Homo sapiens: one gene and its partners. The protein of the gene in region 1 purifies or fractionates together with the protein of each later gene. This does not show direct contact. Each region holds a gene or a part of one and is shown in the gene's direction. Other genes may lie near its edges.

The links.
Region 2: the proteins of AKAP1 (region 1) and PRKAR2B purify together in Homo sapiens (affinity purification with mass spectrometry; 5 studies listed by BioGRID and IntAct, with this or other methods). This does not show direct contact.
Region 3: the proteins of AKAP1 (region 1) and PRKACA purify together in Homo sapiens (affinity purification with mass spectrometry; 8 studies listed by BioGRID and IntAct, with this or other methods). This does not show direct contact.

What each region holds. Positions count from the first base shown.
Region 1 is NC_000017.11:57,102,214-57,109,252, forward strand, and holds part of AKAP1 (A-kinase anchor protein 1, mitochondrial precursor), read left to right. Parts: intron 1-3,227; 5' UTR 3,228-3,251; coding exon 3,252-4,965; intron 4,966-7,039.
Region 2 is NC_000007.14:107,047,704-107,054,742, forward strand, and holds part of PRKAR2B (cAMP-dependent protein kinase type II-beta regulatory subunit), read left to right. Parts: intron 1-7,039. UniProt on the Homo sapiens protein: Regulatory subunit of the cAMP-dependent protein kinases involved in cAMP signaling in cells. Type II regulatory chains mediate membrane association by binding to anchoring proteins, including the MAP2 kinase.
Region 3 is NC_000019.10:14,091,150-14,093,763, reverse strand, and holds the end of PRKACA (cAMP-dependent protein kinase catalytic subunit alpha), read left to right. Parts: coding exon 1-136; intron 137-526; coding exon 527-652; 3' UTR 653-2,076; downstream 2,077-2,614.

The sequences.
Region 1 (7,039 bases):
GGTGCTTGGCTTTGTGGATTTTTCTTTGTTGTGGTTTTGTTTTTGTTTTTTTAATTTAAAGATGCCAAGTGTGGGATTTCAGAGTTGTAGGATGTGGTTATGAGCTTTTAAGAGCTATCATAAGGCTCTCCGGAAAGGTAGTACAGACTTCCCCTTTTCTTGGCTCATATAGCGCCTCTTCCCCACAGTTCTAGAATAATGGGTTCCAGATTTAATGTGGGAGAGAATTTAGGTACCCATCCCTTGGCTGTATGCCTTGAGCTTTTTTTTTTTTTTGAGTCTCGCTCTGTCACCCAGACTGGAGTGCAGTGGCACTATCTTGGCTCACTGCAACCTCTGCCTCCCGGGTTCAAGTGATTCTCCCGCTCAGCCTCCCGAGTAGCTGGGAGTACAGGCTCCCGCCACAACTCCCGGCTCTCTCTCTTTTTTTTTTGTATTTTTAGTAGAAACAGGGTTTAACATGTTAACCAGGATGGTCTCAATCTCCTGACCTCGTGATCCACCCGCCTCAGCCTCTGAAAGTGCTAGGATTATAGGTGTGAGCCACCGCACCCAGCCTCCTTGAGCTATTTTAACCTTCAAGATAGTAATTCATTTGGCTGGGCACCGTGGCCTGTCATCCCAGCACTTTGGGAGGCCGGCTGGCGGATCACCTGAGGTCTCGAGTTCCAGTCTAGCCAACATGGCGAAACCCCGTCTCTACCAAAAATACAAAAATTAGCCAAGTGTGGTGGTGGGCGCCTGTAGACCCAGCTACTCTGGAGGCTGAGACAGGAGAACTGCATGAACCTGGAGGCAGAGGTTGTAATGAGCCGAGATCACACCACTGCACTCCAGCCTGGACGACAGCGAGATAAAAGGAAAACAATCTAGCAAGGTTCTGTGTTTGAATGTGAAGCAAAACGGTAGCACTAAATTTCTTCCCTGAGGAATTGATGTAAAGCCTTAGCCCTGGCCACTGCCTAGCCCTGCATTGTGCTTCAAATGCTATCATTGCTGCTGCTTCAAATATCAGCAAGAAAGTTTATCTTTAAAGATATAGGGACTTTCAAATGGAGGTGACCTTCTCACTACCACTGCCCCCACTTCATCACTTCAGGGGCAGAACACACCTCTTAGCATTCCTTCACAAACTGTAAGGTCCTTCTCAATCCCCTAGGGATCTTGTTAAAATGCAAGTCTGAGGTGAGACTGGGATACTGCATTTCTAGCAAGGTCCTAGGCAATATTCAGGACTTCTGGTACATGGATCGCACTTTCAGAAGCAGAGTCCTAGAGTAGTGGTTCCCAGCCTTGGCTGGAAAGTAGAACCTCTCAGGGAACTTTTAAAAGTACTGATGTTCTGGTTCTGCCAGAAAACAATATAAGTCAAACCAATATGAGTTGTTAAAACATGTGCATTTGTTATCTCTAAAAGAAAACAAACCCAAATAAGGTGTAATTCAGCTTGTCAGTTGAAGGATTTTTGGTTTTAAAAAGACATTACTTTGGCAGAGAGATTTAAAGTTTGCTGGCATAGGAAGCATTGAATGTAAGTGTTCTAGAATAAGCCCATCATATACCTTTAGTGAGTGTTAACTGCTTTGCAAAGAACTTTCTATATCTCAGCTAATCCTTATACCAACCATCCATTAAGAGATGTGTCCCCATCTTACAGATGAGGAAAAATTGAGTTTTCTATCCCCTTTACATGTCTGTTGCCTTCTTCTAGGCCCTTACTATTCCTCCTTGCTTAGACCTAACTGACTTAGGTTTCTAGGTTCCTTCTGCTCGATATACTTCACTTTTCTTTTTTGAGATGGAGTCTTGATCTCGGCTCACTGCAACCTCCACCCCCCTGGATTCAAGCAATTCTCCTGCCTCAGCCTCCTGAGTAGCTGGGATTACAGGCGCCTGCCACCATGCCCAGCTAATTTTTGTATTTTTAGTAGAGACAGGGTTTCACCGTGTTGCCCAGGCTAGTCTCAAACTTCTGACCTTAGGTGATCTGCCGAGCTCTGCTTCCCAAAGTGCTGGGATTTCAGGCTTCAGGCATGAGCCACTGCGCCCAGCCTCGATTCACTTTTCATCCTGTTCCCAGAATTGCCTTCTAGAAACAATTTGATGTGTGTGCCTTGCAGACCTATGCTGGTTCTCTGTTGTCTGCAGGATAAAGTCCAGACTACGCAGTGGGGCCCTAGGACACCCTCACTGACCCCACGATGGTACAGATGCTCCTCAGCTTACAATGGAGTTACATCCTGGTAGACCCATTGTAAGCTGAAAATAGCATAAATCGAAAATAAATACATCTAATGCACCTAACCTACTGAACACCATAGTTTAGCCTAGGCTACTTTACATGAGCTGAGAAGACTCACAGTCGTCTACAGTGGGGCAAAATCACCTAGCAACACGATCCACTCTGGAGTGCCCGTTGTTCACCCTTGTGATAGAGTGGATGACTGGGAGCTAGCATTGCGAGAGAGTAGCGCATCACCTATTGGTAGTCCAGGGAAAGATCAGAATCCAAAATTGGAAGTATAGTTTCCACTGAATGGGTATTGTTTCCCACCATTGTAAAGTTGAAAAATTCTCAGTTGAGCCTTGGAAGATCAGGGAGCGCCTGTATTTGAATCTTCCAAGTCTGACCTGGACCTTCATGCTGCAGTTTGCTGTGTTGGTCCCTCACCCTGGAGCATCTCCTTAGCCATTGGGAATTTTATTCCTCCTTCATTCTCACTGTCTCTAATTGCTGAGTAACAAAGTTCCATTTCATTGACTCATGATTTTATGGGTAGATGTGAGGGAACCATGCACATGTGGATTCCATGGGGGTTTGAAATGCTCTGATGCCACTTGATAGAAAAAAATGTTCTGTGAGTTTAGAGAACTGAGCCACACTGAGCAGAGCTAGCCCCTTTTTGGGGAACATAGAGAGAATTTGGCATCATGAAGTGATGAAGGGAGGGATTTGGGTTAAAGAATAGAATGCTCGGTTTGTTTCAAGAGGGTGCGTGAGTTGGGGAGCATGGAGGGGAAGATGCCTCTTCCTGGCCACTGACCCCCAGTGGATCACACAGAGGGTGGACTGGTACGAGCTGAGAGGTGTGCTCCTCTTGGAGGGCAGGGAAGGCGGAGGAGATGGCTCCAGCTCTACCCTGTTGACTGTCTTGCATGTGCGGTTGCCAGTATCCTCCTACCTGGCTCTGTAACATCCCTCCTCCCCGCTCTCCTGCTCTCCCCAGGTGTAATTACTTCAAGCCTCCAGGATGGCAATCCAGTTCCGTTCGCTCTTCCCCTTGGCATTGCCTGGGATGCTGGCGCTCCTCGGCTGGTGGTGGTTTTTCTCTCGTAAAAAAGGCCATGTCAGCAGCCATGATGAGCAGCAGGTGGAGGCTGGTGCTGTGCAGCTGAGGGCTGACCCTGCCATCAAGGAACCTCTCCCCGTGGAAGACGTCTGTCCCAAAGTAGTGTCCACACCCCCCAGTGTCACAGAGCCTCCAGAAAAGGAACTGTCCACCGTGAGCAAGCTGCCTGCAGAGCCCCCAGCATTGCTCCAGACACACCCACCTTGCCGAAGATCAGAGTCCTCGGGCATTCTTCCTAACACCACAGACATGAGATTGCGACCAGGAACACGCAGAGATGACAGTACAAAGCTGGAGCTAGCCCTGACAGGTGGTGAAGCCAAATCGATTCCTCTAGAGTGCCCCCTTTCATCCCCAAAGGGTGTACTATTCTCCAGCAAATCAGCTGAGGTGTGTAAGCAAGATTCCCCCTTCAGCAGGGTGCCAAGGAAGGTCCAGCCAGGCTACCCCGTAGTCCCCGCAGAGAAGCGTAGCTCTGGGGAGAGGGCAAGAGAGACAGGTGGGGCCGAAGGGACTGGTGATGCCGTGTTGGGGGAAAAGGTGCTTGAAGAAGCTCTGTTGTCTCGGGAGCATGTCTTGGAATTGGAGAACAGCAAGGGCCCCAGCCTGGCCTCTTTAGAGGGGGAAGAAGATAAGGGGAAGAGCAGCTCATCCCAGGTGGTGGGGCCAGTGCAGGAGGAAGAGTATGTAGCAGAGAAGTTGCCAAGTAGGTTCATCGAGTCGGCTCACACAGAGCTGGCAAAGGACGATGCGGCGCCAGCACCCCCAGTCGCAGACGCCAAAGCCCAGGATAGAGGTGTCGAGGGAGAACTGGGCAATGAGGAGAGCTTGGATAGAAATGAGGAGGGCTTGGATAGAAATGAGGAGGGCTTGGATAGAAATGAGGAGAGCTTGGATAGAAATGAGGAGGGCTTGGATAGAAATGAGGAGATTAAGCGGGCTGCCTTCCAGATAATCTCCCAAGTGATCTCAGAAGCAACCGAACAGGTGCTGGCCACCACGGTTGGCAAGGTTGCAGGTCGTGTGTGTCAGGCCAGTCAGCTCCAAGGGCAGAAGGAAGAGAGCTGTGTCCCAGTTCACCAGAAAACTGTCTTGGGCCCAGACACTGCGGAGCCTGCCACAGCAGAGGCAGCTGTTGCCCCGCCGGATGCTGGCCTCCCCTTGCCAGGCCTACCAGCAGAGGGCTCACCACCACCAAAGACCTACGTGAGCTGCCTGAAGAGCCTTCTGTCCAGCCCCACCAAGGACAGTAAGCCAAATATCTCTGCACACCACATCTCCCTGGCCTCCTGCCTGGCACTGACCACCCCCAGTGAAGAGTTGCCGGACCGGGCAGGCATCCTGGTGGAAGATGCCACCTGTGTCACCTGCATGTCAGACAGCAGCCAAAGTGTCCCTTTGGTGGCTTCTCCAGGACACTGCTCAGATTCTTTCAGCACTTCAGGGCTTGAAGACTCTTGCACAGAGACCAGCTCGAGCCCCAGGGACAAGGCCATCACCCCGCCACTGCCAGAAAGTACTGTGCCCTTCAGCAATGGGGTGCTGAAGGGGGAGTTGTCAGACTTGGGGGCTGAGGATGGATGGACCATGGATGCGGAAGCAGATCATTCAGGAGGTAGGAGGGTCTCGGGTTCGTTTAGAGGATGGGGCGCTCCCAGTATTTCTTGGAGAAAGGCTGCCAGTCTGCCTCTCCCTTCTGCTACTTGTGCAGCAAAGTCATAGTGCTCTTCAGCTCTTTATCGCAACCTGCAGAGGTCTGGACACGGCGTAGAGCTGGTGGGTAACTGAGGAGTTAGATTGCCCTGAAACCCCAAGTCATGGGAGCTGTAACTTGGTTCCTCAACCGGTGACCTTCCCCAGTGAGCCCTTCCCAAGGAACTAGCGCCAAGTTGGGCTCGCTGATTAACATTAGTGTGCCTCTTTTTCTTTGTTTAAAAAAATTATTATTATTTTGGTGCAGATGGAGTCTTCCTTTGTTGCCCAGGCTGGTCTCGCACTCCTGGGCTCAAGTGATCCTTCCGCCCTCGGCCTCCCAGAGTGCTGGGTTTATAGGTGTGAGTCACTATGCCCAGCCCATTTTTTTTTCTTTTTTAAACACTAACCTCTTTGTGTGTGCGTGTGTGTGTGTGTTTTAATGGAGAGGCCTCCTTAGCTTTACTTCCCTTGAGTGCCAGGTATGGGTGTGAGTGTTTTGAATGGTTTTTATTTCCTTTTAATCATGTGCTTGTTCCCATGTCTTCACCTGCTTTCCTTCTCCAGAAGCTCTTACAGGGTAAGTGCCCAAAGAACGGCCACAGCTTTGAATACTTGTGGGAGGCTTGAGCTTCCTGAGTTGTCGCTGTCACCTTTGCAGAAAGCCTCAGCCATTTTCTTTCTGTGCAGTTGCAGCTCCACCCCCGGGAAAGCGGGGCACTTTGATAACGAGGTGTCCTGGGTTTTTCGAGTGCTGACCCCAGCGTAGACAGTTCAGACCGCTAACTTACAGGTCAGCAGCTCCTGACCCTGCTTCTGCAGGCACCCTGGGGTGTTTTCATTTATCTCATGGAGAGAGGCCACGAATATCCCGAGTGGCTCTCTGACTTGTTTGTCCTGGAGCCATTCCCTCCCATTTCAGCTCCGGGTAGGTTGGGAATCTTTATTGGGAATTTTACCACTTTCAGCAGCATCTAGTTTGTACCACACGCTACATTTTGTCACCTCCAAGATGCTGTTAAGACACTACTGTTTTTATGTACCTTGGAAAGAAAAAAGTGCTGCCAGTCATGATTATAGAAGGCAAGATACTATATGATGCATCCTAATCTCGGGATGTTTAAATGTTTCTTAAAATACTGCATCTGAAAATGGGTGATTTTTATTTTATTTATTTTTTAAGAATAAAGGAGTTTCCCTTTGCTTACTGCCCCTCAGCTGAATTAACAAGCCCCGCAGCCTTGTCTGCCAACTCTAGATGGATAGTAGTAGCTACTCAGACCTGTTGAAGTCTTCTGAGTTTAGGCTTGAACCTAAGCCGTGGTGATGGGCAGGGAGGTTTAGGGATGGCACGTGGAAATGAGGTAATACTGTCCACGAGCATGCGGTGGGTGCCAAGCACGAGGTTAGTGCCTCGCATGTACCTTCATGTCAGCCCTGCTTTGTTTGTGAGGAAGTTGAAGCTGAGAAGGGGACCAGGGACCACCCCACTGAGGGAGCTGGAAGCTGGCCTTTGAGTGCAGCCTGCTAGAGTCCGGGTGTGGTTCTGAGCCACTGCTGGGAGCCATCGGGATGGCAGGTGTTAGCCAGTCCCATTCTGTGGGGCAGAGGCTGGATACTGTGAGTGAGCAGAGCTCCCCGCCCCCTCGCCCAGCCCCTGTCAGCCTGTTATGCTTCCCGCAGGCTAGCCAAGCAGTCTTCCCCCAGAAGGGGTACTTTTCCCTGCATGAATCCTGTTCGAAGCGCCTAGTGTTAAGGGGGGAAGTCATTTTGAAGGTGATTCTTCCTTAGCTGGGAGCAGGATCTCTTGGGCCTTAGTTCTCTGCATCCAGTGTATGGGTTACTTGGCAAAGGATTATACTCAGGGTTTGGAGAAACCATGTGGAAGGTAACCTAATTGGTAGACTCTCAGGAGTGATCTATTTCTGGTGATTGAGTCATCCATATTTAAGCCAGGGCCACTTCTCTTGAGCTGATCTGGACCCGCTTTTTTGTGA
Region 2 (7,039 bases), on another chromosome or scaffold:
TTAATTTACTATGACACAGCACAAGACCTGCTGGGTCAGTAATTCTGAAATTTTCATAGATATCTCAAGGAAGTTTGATTCAGAAATGACCATTACCCTGTACCATTTTTGGAGAGCTTTTTTAAATAGGTTGAGATGGGACATGATATCCTTTTCTTCCCCCTCAGTAGACATCCCACCCAGGTCATTCTGATATCAATAGTTCCATGACTGTACTTTGGAAAACATTAACAGATAGTGATAATACTATATTCTTCTTAACATTTAAAACATAATTGCCGTTAGTTGACAATTGCTGTGTGCTGTCTAAATGCTTTAATTTTTTTGTCTCAGCTTTATGAGAACGATAAGGCCATCACTTGCCCAGTGTTTCACGTGAGCTGCAAAATCAAGATTGGGATACAGGTGGACCTGGCTTCATCCCTGTGCTCTTGACTGCCCGATTCTATCTCCAGATGGGGCTGGGGCTAGCATAACCTGAGTATCCCTTATATGTCAAGCTCTATTTGGGACCCTTAATGTGTTTTATTGTTAAAGCTCTGAAAAATTAACTTGTCCAAGGTCACACATAAAACGAGTAAGTAGGGAAGCCTGATTTCTTACTCTTATGTATCTAACCTTGAAGCCCAGGATGATCAGGGAGTTCTTAAATGGAATTTGTTCTGTGGGCTGACTCACAAGTCAGGTTTTCCTGTTTTTTTTTCTTTTAGTAATGCTGATGGATTTGCATTGTTGGTTCATATCCTCTCTTGTGAATGTCTTTAACGTAAGTGATGGTATTTATGAGAGGTTGGAGTTAAAAGGCAAGTTTTTGACCATGCAACTTGTGCCCATTGACAAACGTAGGACAAACGTAGGGATCAAGCATGTGACCTTGACCTTATAATGTGGTGGTTTAATCAAATAAGCCAGGCACCTGCAGTTAGCTGGAAAAAATGTTGTCTGGCCAGGGGTCGGTGATTTTTGAGGGTCAGGTGGTGTGGCTGTAGGTGGCGCTAGAGCAAACAGTCAGATGGGTGAAGGTCATCTTCTTTCCTACCTTTCCAAAGGATCCCTTCCTCTTCTAATAGCTTTCTTTTCCCTCTCCTATTCTCTTCCAGTCTTATAAATTCTAATTGTTACTTTCCATTTGCTATCAATTCTGGTCGAAAGAGCAAGCTTTAGATGTTAGAATGATAGTGGCTTATGGTGACCCTTTCTAGGGAAACTCTCAAAGGCCAGAAAGAAGCCATAATGGAAACCTCTTGGCATCTACTCTGTCTCCCTCTTCCCCGTCCTAGAGAAAGCAAATACAGTTTGACATGTCATGTCTGAAAGGGTAGCATCCCTAGGCCTTGAATTTCTTAGAAGGTTTACGGTAGGCTATAGCATTGCATCAGTACTAGTTTGGAGTAAAATCTGTGGTAATTCATGATTTTATATAGGCATCATCAAGAGATCTTGTGTTGCCCCATAATTTCTTCAGTGGAATTGCTGAAACAAAAAATGAAGTAAATACCATTCAGATTACTCTGATAAATGGACAAGTGGTCAGAAACAAAATTAACTACACATGGGCACATGCAGAGCAGTCAACCTGGGAGAAAAAATAACTACCGTGATAGAAAATAAAGAGCTGATTTTCTGAGTTATAGAAGAAAAAGATCTAGAGTTCAAAGTAGATACACATACCAAAAATATAGACTCATACCCCATAAGACAAGCATATCAAAAGTAATAAATAGAAATTTACCATGTAATAACTGTGGCTTAATCCTCTTAACTCTGTCCCATGTCCAGTCTTGTTGGAATCTTACCTACCTTTTGGTTTTTACAGTTCAAAGGGAATTTGGAGAATTTACAAAACATCCTTAAGGTCAAGCAAAATATTGTAAAGTTTATATCATTGATATAAAATCTTACAGAGTTATATACTTTTTTTTTTGCAGAATAGCAATTTCATTGTGTTTTATGGAAATGAATCCAGTATTGCACTTCTTGGCGAGGTGAAGCAGGGAATGAGCTTATGTGGCAGTTTTACTTAGGATTTAATGTTATACAGTAATAAAATCCATATCTTTTCAGCTCATAATTTGTAGCTAAGAGCTCCAGGATTTTGTAATTAATGAGACTTTATAGTTTTTGGCTATTAGAGATTTACATGGTGGTTTTAAATCCTCCTGAAATGGATTAAATCATTCATGACAATGGCTAAAATATTGAAGCCATTATTTTAGTTATGAGCATAAAACAATAGTGTCAGAAAAGATAATAAAAATTATTTTGAGTTAGAGATAGTGATTGTGATTTTCAAAGCAGAAGTTAAGAACATTATTCATTTTACTAGTAATAGTAGGTGGATTGCTTTAGGGGTTGAAATTGGGAAACCAAAAAACCCCTTCTCTTACCATCTATTACTTTGGGCTTTGGAAGAAGGGTGGTAGAGGGAGAAAGATAATGAAGTCAGAAGGGAAAGGGGGAGGGAGAGAGCAAGAGAGAAGTAAAACCAGTTGTGAAGGCTTGCTTGAGTAACTTACACTTTGAAGACATACAATGGAAACACCTAAACAGAAATTGAAGCATTAGTACTTTAATTTTTCTATCAAAAACCAAACCATTTAGCTATTATTTTAGATAAGACAGTTACCAGCTTTTTTTTTTTTTTTTTTTTTTTTTTTTTGTGGATGCACATAAATTGATGTGCTGTGTCTGGGTAGAACAGGAGTGAATATTGAATGGTTATTTTATTGTTGCAAATCTCATTCCATGGATTCCAGTAAATTTCCAGCCGTCAAGATTTTGTTAACAGCTATGTTGAAAAACAATTGTGTTTCTTTTTCAGTTGTGCAAATACAAACAGGGGACCTATGAATCCATCAATTTGGGGTTTATTTTTGACCCATTAAGAAAATCGTTTGTCAGTAGTAGTAGTAATAAAGTCCTACAGTGGAGGTTGGGGAATGATGGAATATTTTAAGGTGAGAGATTCAGTGAAGAAGACTGAAGTGACTAACTGCAGGGTCTACTTTAGAAGTGTGGAGAATCACAGAAAGTGCTGAGATCTGGGATGGCCTATTAGAAACAATGTGTGAAACTTGGAAGGTAGGATAGTTCTTATTTTAAGAAAAAAGAAATGATTCGTCTTACATTTACTCTCTTTAGACTTCATTTTTTTCTGTTTTTGTTTGTTTTTTGGTAGAGATGGGTCTTCCTTTCTTGCCCAGGCTGGTCTTGAACTCCTGGCTTCAAGCAGTCCTTTTGCCTCAGCTTCCGAAAGTGTTGGAATTAGAGGCGTGAGCCACTGCTCCCTGCCTAGACTTAAGACACCATCCTTTTGTCAGAGATGGCCTCATAGATAGTATGTATGATCAATTTTGTTAATAGATGGGGCAGGTGAGAGACAGAGAAGTTCCTTATCCAAATTTGGTAGGTTTTGGCCTTATAAATTTGAGTTTGTTCATACAACTGTTGCCAACATTTTGTGCGCTATTTATATTAACTTACATCATATGAATTTTTTCTGTCTTCCATCAAGTTGATTGATAAGGTTTAAAAGGATGGGCTAAAGAAAAGTACTTTTGTCTTCAGAATTTCCAGGTTTTTTTGTTCTTTGATTCTTTTTCAATGAAGTGAAATCTAATATTAGACTATATTTTCCTATCACTTGCTTAAGAAGAGACAATGGAAAAGAAACAAGAATGCAGTGATTTTTCTGAATTGAATGAATTGTTACTGTGTTCTTGATCCTGTTCTTGTCCTTCCTGTCTTATCTATATCATCTAGTTGTGGTTGGGACAGTCACAAAATCCTACTCTAAAAACCTCACTATGATGCTTATCATTATTTTATGAGAGCGAATTTTGTGCTTCACAAATTCAAAATGACTCAGACGGTTTCATTATGTAATTTTATGGAAAGAATTTGAGCTAAAATTTTCAGGTCATGGCTTACATGACAACAAAACAATCAAATAAGAAAATCAGAACTATAAACAGTTGGTGTAACATTTATAAATGTTTCAGCAATAGGCTCTGCCATGTGTAGCTTAATATGTTTGGAAACTAAAAAAAAAAGTCTTTCCAGTTGCTGCTGTTTAAAAATGTTTCTTAATTAAAAAAAAGACAAAAGGTCAAAATGTAAACACATGTTCCACATAAAAGTGAAGCCAAGAAGATATACTGTATACAGTTATTCCTGTATCTGTTTGACTAAGGATGACATTGTTTAATTTACATTAGCTGTTCCAAGACAAAATAGTCCATGGGAGTGATGTTGAGGGGAATTTGGGGGGTAAAAAGAGAAGGAAAAAAGCCGTTTGTTCCATTTGTTCTAATATATTTCAGTTACACCCAAAGAGCATCTTTTTCAAAGGTCATGTTGAATTAAAACATGATTCGGCTGTTTCGTTCTCATTATTATAGAAAACTAATGTCTTTTAAATGGTGTCCTTTTAGGCCGGGCACGGTGGCTCATGTCTATAATTCCCAGCACTCTGGGAGGCCGATGCGGGCGGATCACCTGAGGTCAGGAATAGGACACCAGCCTGGCCAACATGGTGAAACCCCATCTCTACTAAAAATACAAAAATTAGCTGGGCGTGGTGGCGGGCGCCTTAATCCCAGCTGCTTGGGAGGCTGAAGCAGGAGAATCGCTTGAACCCTGGAGACGGAGGTTGCAGTGAGCCGAGATTGCGCCACTGCACTCCAGCTTGGGCAACAGAGGTATACTCTGTCTCAAAAAAATAAATAAATGGTGTCCTTTTTATTTAATACTAGTTATTATTAACATTTTTGACTACTGATGTATCAGATGTGGAACAGTGCTTTACACATTGTCATCTGAACAGATGCTTTACACATATGTGATTTAGTCTTCCCCAGAGTAATTGGTGGAATCAAGGTTTGAACCTGGTAATCTGACTTCAGGGTCTTCCTCTTCAACCACGGTTTATACACTTCATTTCAGTAATTCTTTTAGCAGTAACGTGGTTGAAAATAAGCACATATCAAAAAATAAGCTACCTACTTTTCCCTCTAAAAGTTTGCAGGCTAGCCCTGCATTGATCTCTCCCTTTTACAATTTGCATTCTCTGTCTATTCAACCCAAATTAGCATTTCATGTACCTTAGAAACTCAGTACATTTGTTTATTTTATTTTATTTTGTTTTTGACAGAGTCTTGCTCTGTTGCCCAGGCTGGAGTGCAGTGGTGCCATCTTGGCTCACTGCAGCCTCTGCCTCTGGGTTCAAGTGATTCTCCTGCCTCAGCTTCCTGAGTAGCTGGGATTACAGGTGTGTGCCACCATGTCTGCCTAATTTTTGTATTTTTGGTAGAGACAAGGTTTTTCCATGTTGGCAAGGCTGGTCTGGAACTCCTGGCCTCAAGTGATCCCACCTGCCTCAGCCTCCCAAAATACTGGGATTATAGGCAAGAGCCACCACACCCAGCCTACATTTATTTATTTTAGAAATAATCACCTCATGTACTGAGCTGCTTAATTCTCTAAATTTATTTTATTATATACCTTTATTAGCAAAATATATTTGAGTGTACACCCCAATATATGTTGATAAATTTTATACATGTGACAATATATTGACTTATATGTATGATAAAGCTTCCTACAATATAAATTTTGAAAGGAGAAAGTAAAAAGCAATTCTAAGCAAGTTGTAATTTTCTCCTACATCCCAACATATAGCCTTATACACTGTTTTGGCATACATGAACCCCGTTTTGGAGACTACAGCTGTAAACAATACCACTTAAATTGATACTCTAGTAATATATAAAGTAGCCATGATCAATTTTGGTTCCCTGATTCAAGCTTCTAGATTATAAAGAGTGTGTGTGTGTGTGTGTGTGTGTGTGTGTGTGTGTGTGTGTGTCTTTTTTAAAAGACAGTCACTCGGTAAGTTAATTGACTCAACAGAAGTTGGCAGAATACAGAGGAAAATTCTATCTTATAAAAAGGAAGTAAAACTACGTTACCTGAAGGGGAAAATCCAGGCTTTTTCTTTTAAAACCTGTTTTCCTGTATATACCTTGAATTCCAATTGTATAGTGGTAATGTTTTTGGTGCAACATTTGTGGATGGGACAAAGAGAATCGTATTATAGTTTTCTGGTTAGGAATCAGTAAATTATGGAAATACCAGTCAGAATTAGAAGAAAGTCTAAAGTTTAGAATAGTTGAAAAGAAATGCAATTTCATAGAGTATTTCAGGTTATTTTGTTAGGAGAGAGATCGTTCACTATTTGCTTTCTTGTAACTTTTGAAAAATGTTTAGCATGTGCTTGGATTACCTATTAAATAAGTGTAAAAATACATGAAAGAAAGGCAATTCTTTTGTAAATATGCATTAAGTAGTAAATAAAACACAGTAGGCCGTGTGTGGTGGCTCACAGCCTGTAATCCCAGCACTTTGGGAGGCCGAGGCGGGCGAATCATGAGGTCAGGAAATCGAGACCATCCTGACTAACTTGGTGAAACCCCGTCTCTACTAAAAATACACACAAAAAAATTAGCCTGGCGTGGTGGCAGTTGCCTGTAGTCCCAGCTACTCGGGAGGCTGAGGCAGGAGAATGGCGTGAACCCGAGAGGCAGAGCTTGCAGTGAGCTGAGATCGCAGCACTGCTTGACAGAGTGAGACTCCATCTCAAAACAAAACAAAACAACAAAACAAACAAAAACCACGGTATATAGCGGCACATGACATGATTCTAAATTGATATAGCCAAATATTCTTGTCTTAAGTCATTCTCTTGGTCCTGAATTCTCACTCCCCTCTCCCTGTCTTTCTGCTAAATCTCACTCTTTTCCCAAAGGTTTAGTTTATATTTTACCCTACCAAATATTTTTGCAAGTTTCCCTCCTTGACGTTAATACTATCAATATGGTAGGATGAATATGGCCTCCATCAGTCAACTTTGCAGATGTCAAGGGTCCTCAGTCTAGGTAGGCAAGAATGTGCAGGAATATACCCTCTCTTTCTAAGTCTTTCCTGTATGTGTTGTGCTTTGCTCACAGTAGGTGTGCAAATGTTTTTTAAAATATTGAAC
Region 3 (2,614 bases), on another chromosome or scaffold:
CTTGAAGGACCTGCTGCGGAACCTCCTGCAGGTAGATCTCACCAAGCGCTTTGGGAACCTCAAGAATGGGGTCAACGATATCAAGAACCACAAGTGGTTTGCCACAACTGACTGGATTGCCATCTACCAGAGGAAGGTGGGCCTCCCCTCCTTAAGCCTGCTGAGGGTTTGGGAGCAGGCCAAGAGTCAGGGAGGACAGCCAATAGAGAAATAGAGAAGAGAACACAGGTTCAGGAGCAACCTAGAGTAGAGAGCTTAGAGCAGTGGGGTCTAGAAATGGGATTCTGGGGTCATTTGGCCATTCCATGACCTTGTGCAACAGATGCCTCTCTCTGGGAAGTAATTTCCCCTTTGATGAGTTGCTACATTAAGAGTTTCGGGCTGTTAAGAGGAATCCATAACCTAATGGTAAGCACAGGCCTGAGTCAGAGTAAATATCTCTTGAATGTTAGGCCATTCGCATTTATTGTTGTAATAATGATTATGTTGAATGCTGAGGTCTGGGTGATTCTTGATCCCTCTCCAGGTGGAAGCTCCCTTCATACCAAAGTTTAAAGGCCCTGGGGATACGAGTAACTTTGACGACTATGAGGAAGAAGAAATCCGGGTCTCCATCAATGAGAAGTGTGGCAAGGAGTTTTCTGAGTTTTAGGGGCATGCCTGTGCCCCCATGGGTTTTCTTTTTTCTTTTTTCTTTTTTTTGGTCGGGGGGGTGGGAGGGTTGGATTGAACAGCCAGAGGGCCCCAGAGTTCCTTGCATCTAATTTCACCCCCACCCCACCCTCCAGGGTTAGGGGGAGCAGGAAGCCCAGATAATCAGAGGGACAGAAACACCAGCTGCTCCCCCTCATCCCCTTCACCCTCCTGCCCCCTCTCCCACTTTTCCCTTCCTCTTTCCCCACAGCCCCCCAGCCCCTCAGCCCTCCCAGCCCACTTCTGCCTGTTTTAAACGAGTTTCTCAACTCCAGTCAGACCAGGTCTTGCTGGTGTATCCAGGGACAGGGTATGGAAAGAGGGGCTCACGCTTAACTCCAGCCCCCACCCACACCCCCATCCCACCCAACCACAGGCCCCACTTGCTAAGGGCAAATGAACGAAGCGCCAACCTTCCTTTCGGAGTAATCCTGCCTGGGAAGGAGAGATTTTTAGTGACATGTTCAGTGGGTTGCTTGCTAGAATTTTTTTAAAAAAACAACAATTTAAAATCTTATTTAAGTTCCACCAGTGCCTCCCTCCCTCCTTCCTCTACTCCCACCCCTCCCATGTCCCCCCATTCCTCAAATCCATTTTAAAGAGAAGCAGACTGACTTTGGAAAGGGAGGCGCTGGGGTTTGAACCTCCCCGCTGCTAATCTCCCCTGGGCCCCTCCCCGGGGAATCCTCTCTGCCAATCCTGCGAGGGTCTAGGCCCCTTTAGGAAGCCTCCGCTCTCTTTTTCCCCAACAGACCTGTCTTCACCCTTGGGCTTTGAAAGCCAGACAAAGCAGCTGCCCCTCTCCCTGCCAAAGAGGAGTCATCCCCCAAAAAGACAGAGGGGGAGCCCCAAGCCCAAGTCTTTCCTCCCAGCAGCGTTTCCCCCCAACTCCTTAATTTTATTCTCCGCTAGATTTTAACGTCCAGCCTTCCCTCAGCTGAGTGGGGAGGGCATCCCTGCAAAAGGGAACAGAAGAGGCCAAGTCCCCCCAAGCCACGGCCCGGGGTTCAAGGCTAGAGCTGCTGGGGAGGGGCTGCCTGTTTTACTCACCCACCAGCTTCCGCCTCCCCCATCCTGGGCGCCCCTCCTCCAGCTTAGCTGTCAGCTGTCCATCACCTCTCCCCCACTTTCTCATTTGTGCTTTTTTCTCTCGTAATAGAAAAGTGGGGAGCCGCTGGGGAGCCACCCCATTCATCCCCGTATTTCCCCCTCTCATAACTTCTCCCCATCCCAGGAGGAGTTCTCAGGCCTGGGGTGGGGCCCCGGGTGGGTGCGGGGGCGATTCAACCTGTGTGCTGCGAAGGACGAGACTTCCTCTTGAACAGTGTGCTGTTGTAAACATATTTGAAAACTATTACCAATAAAGTTTTGTTTAAAAAAAAAGTGTCGCTGGTGTTCTCGACTTCGATCACCCACCCACACACCCCCAGGGGGTTGGAAAGGGAATTTCGGACCCCAGCGTGCAGGCCGATCAGGTCCTGGCTTGAAGTCCTTGTAACCAGGGTTTAGCTGAAATTCCGGCACTCCTTCGGCCCCGCAGGAGAAACGAGCGTCAAACTGCCCTTTGACCCCAGATTCGGGGTCCCCAAATCTGCGGCGCGCCCCCTCGGCGTCCAGCCCGGGACCGAGAGGGCGCTCTAGGGAGGCGCTGGGGCTGGCGCGCCAGGAGGCCGAGCGGCGGCGGGGGCGGCCCTGGCAGGGGGAGTAGAAGGGGGAGAGGGTGCGCGCCCCCCTTCCCGCATCCTCAGCGCCGGGCCAGGCGCGCCTGAGGGACGCGGGGGCGGCGGCAGCAGGAGGGTCCCCGCAGCACCCTGCGAGCGCGGCAGCCCCGGCCCGCGGGCGGCGAGTTCCCGGTAAGTGCGGTCCCGAGAGCGGAGCGCGCTGGAGAGGCGTGGAGAGGGGGGCTGGGCGCCGGGGACGT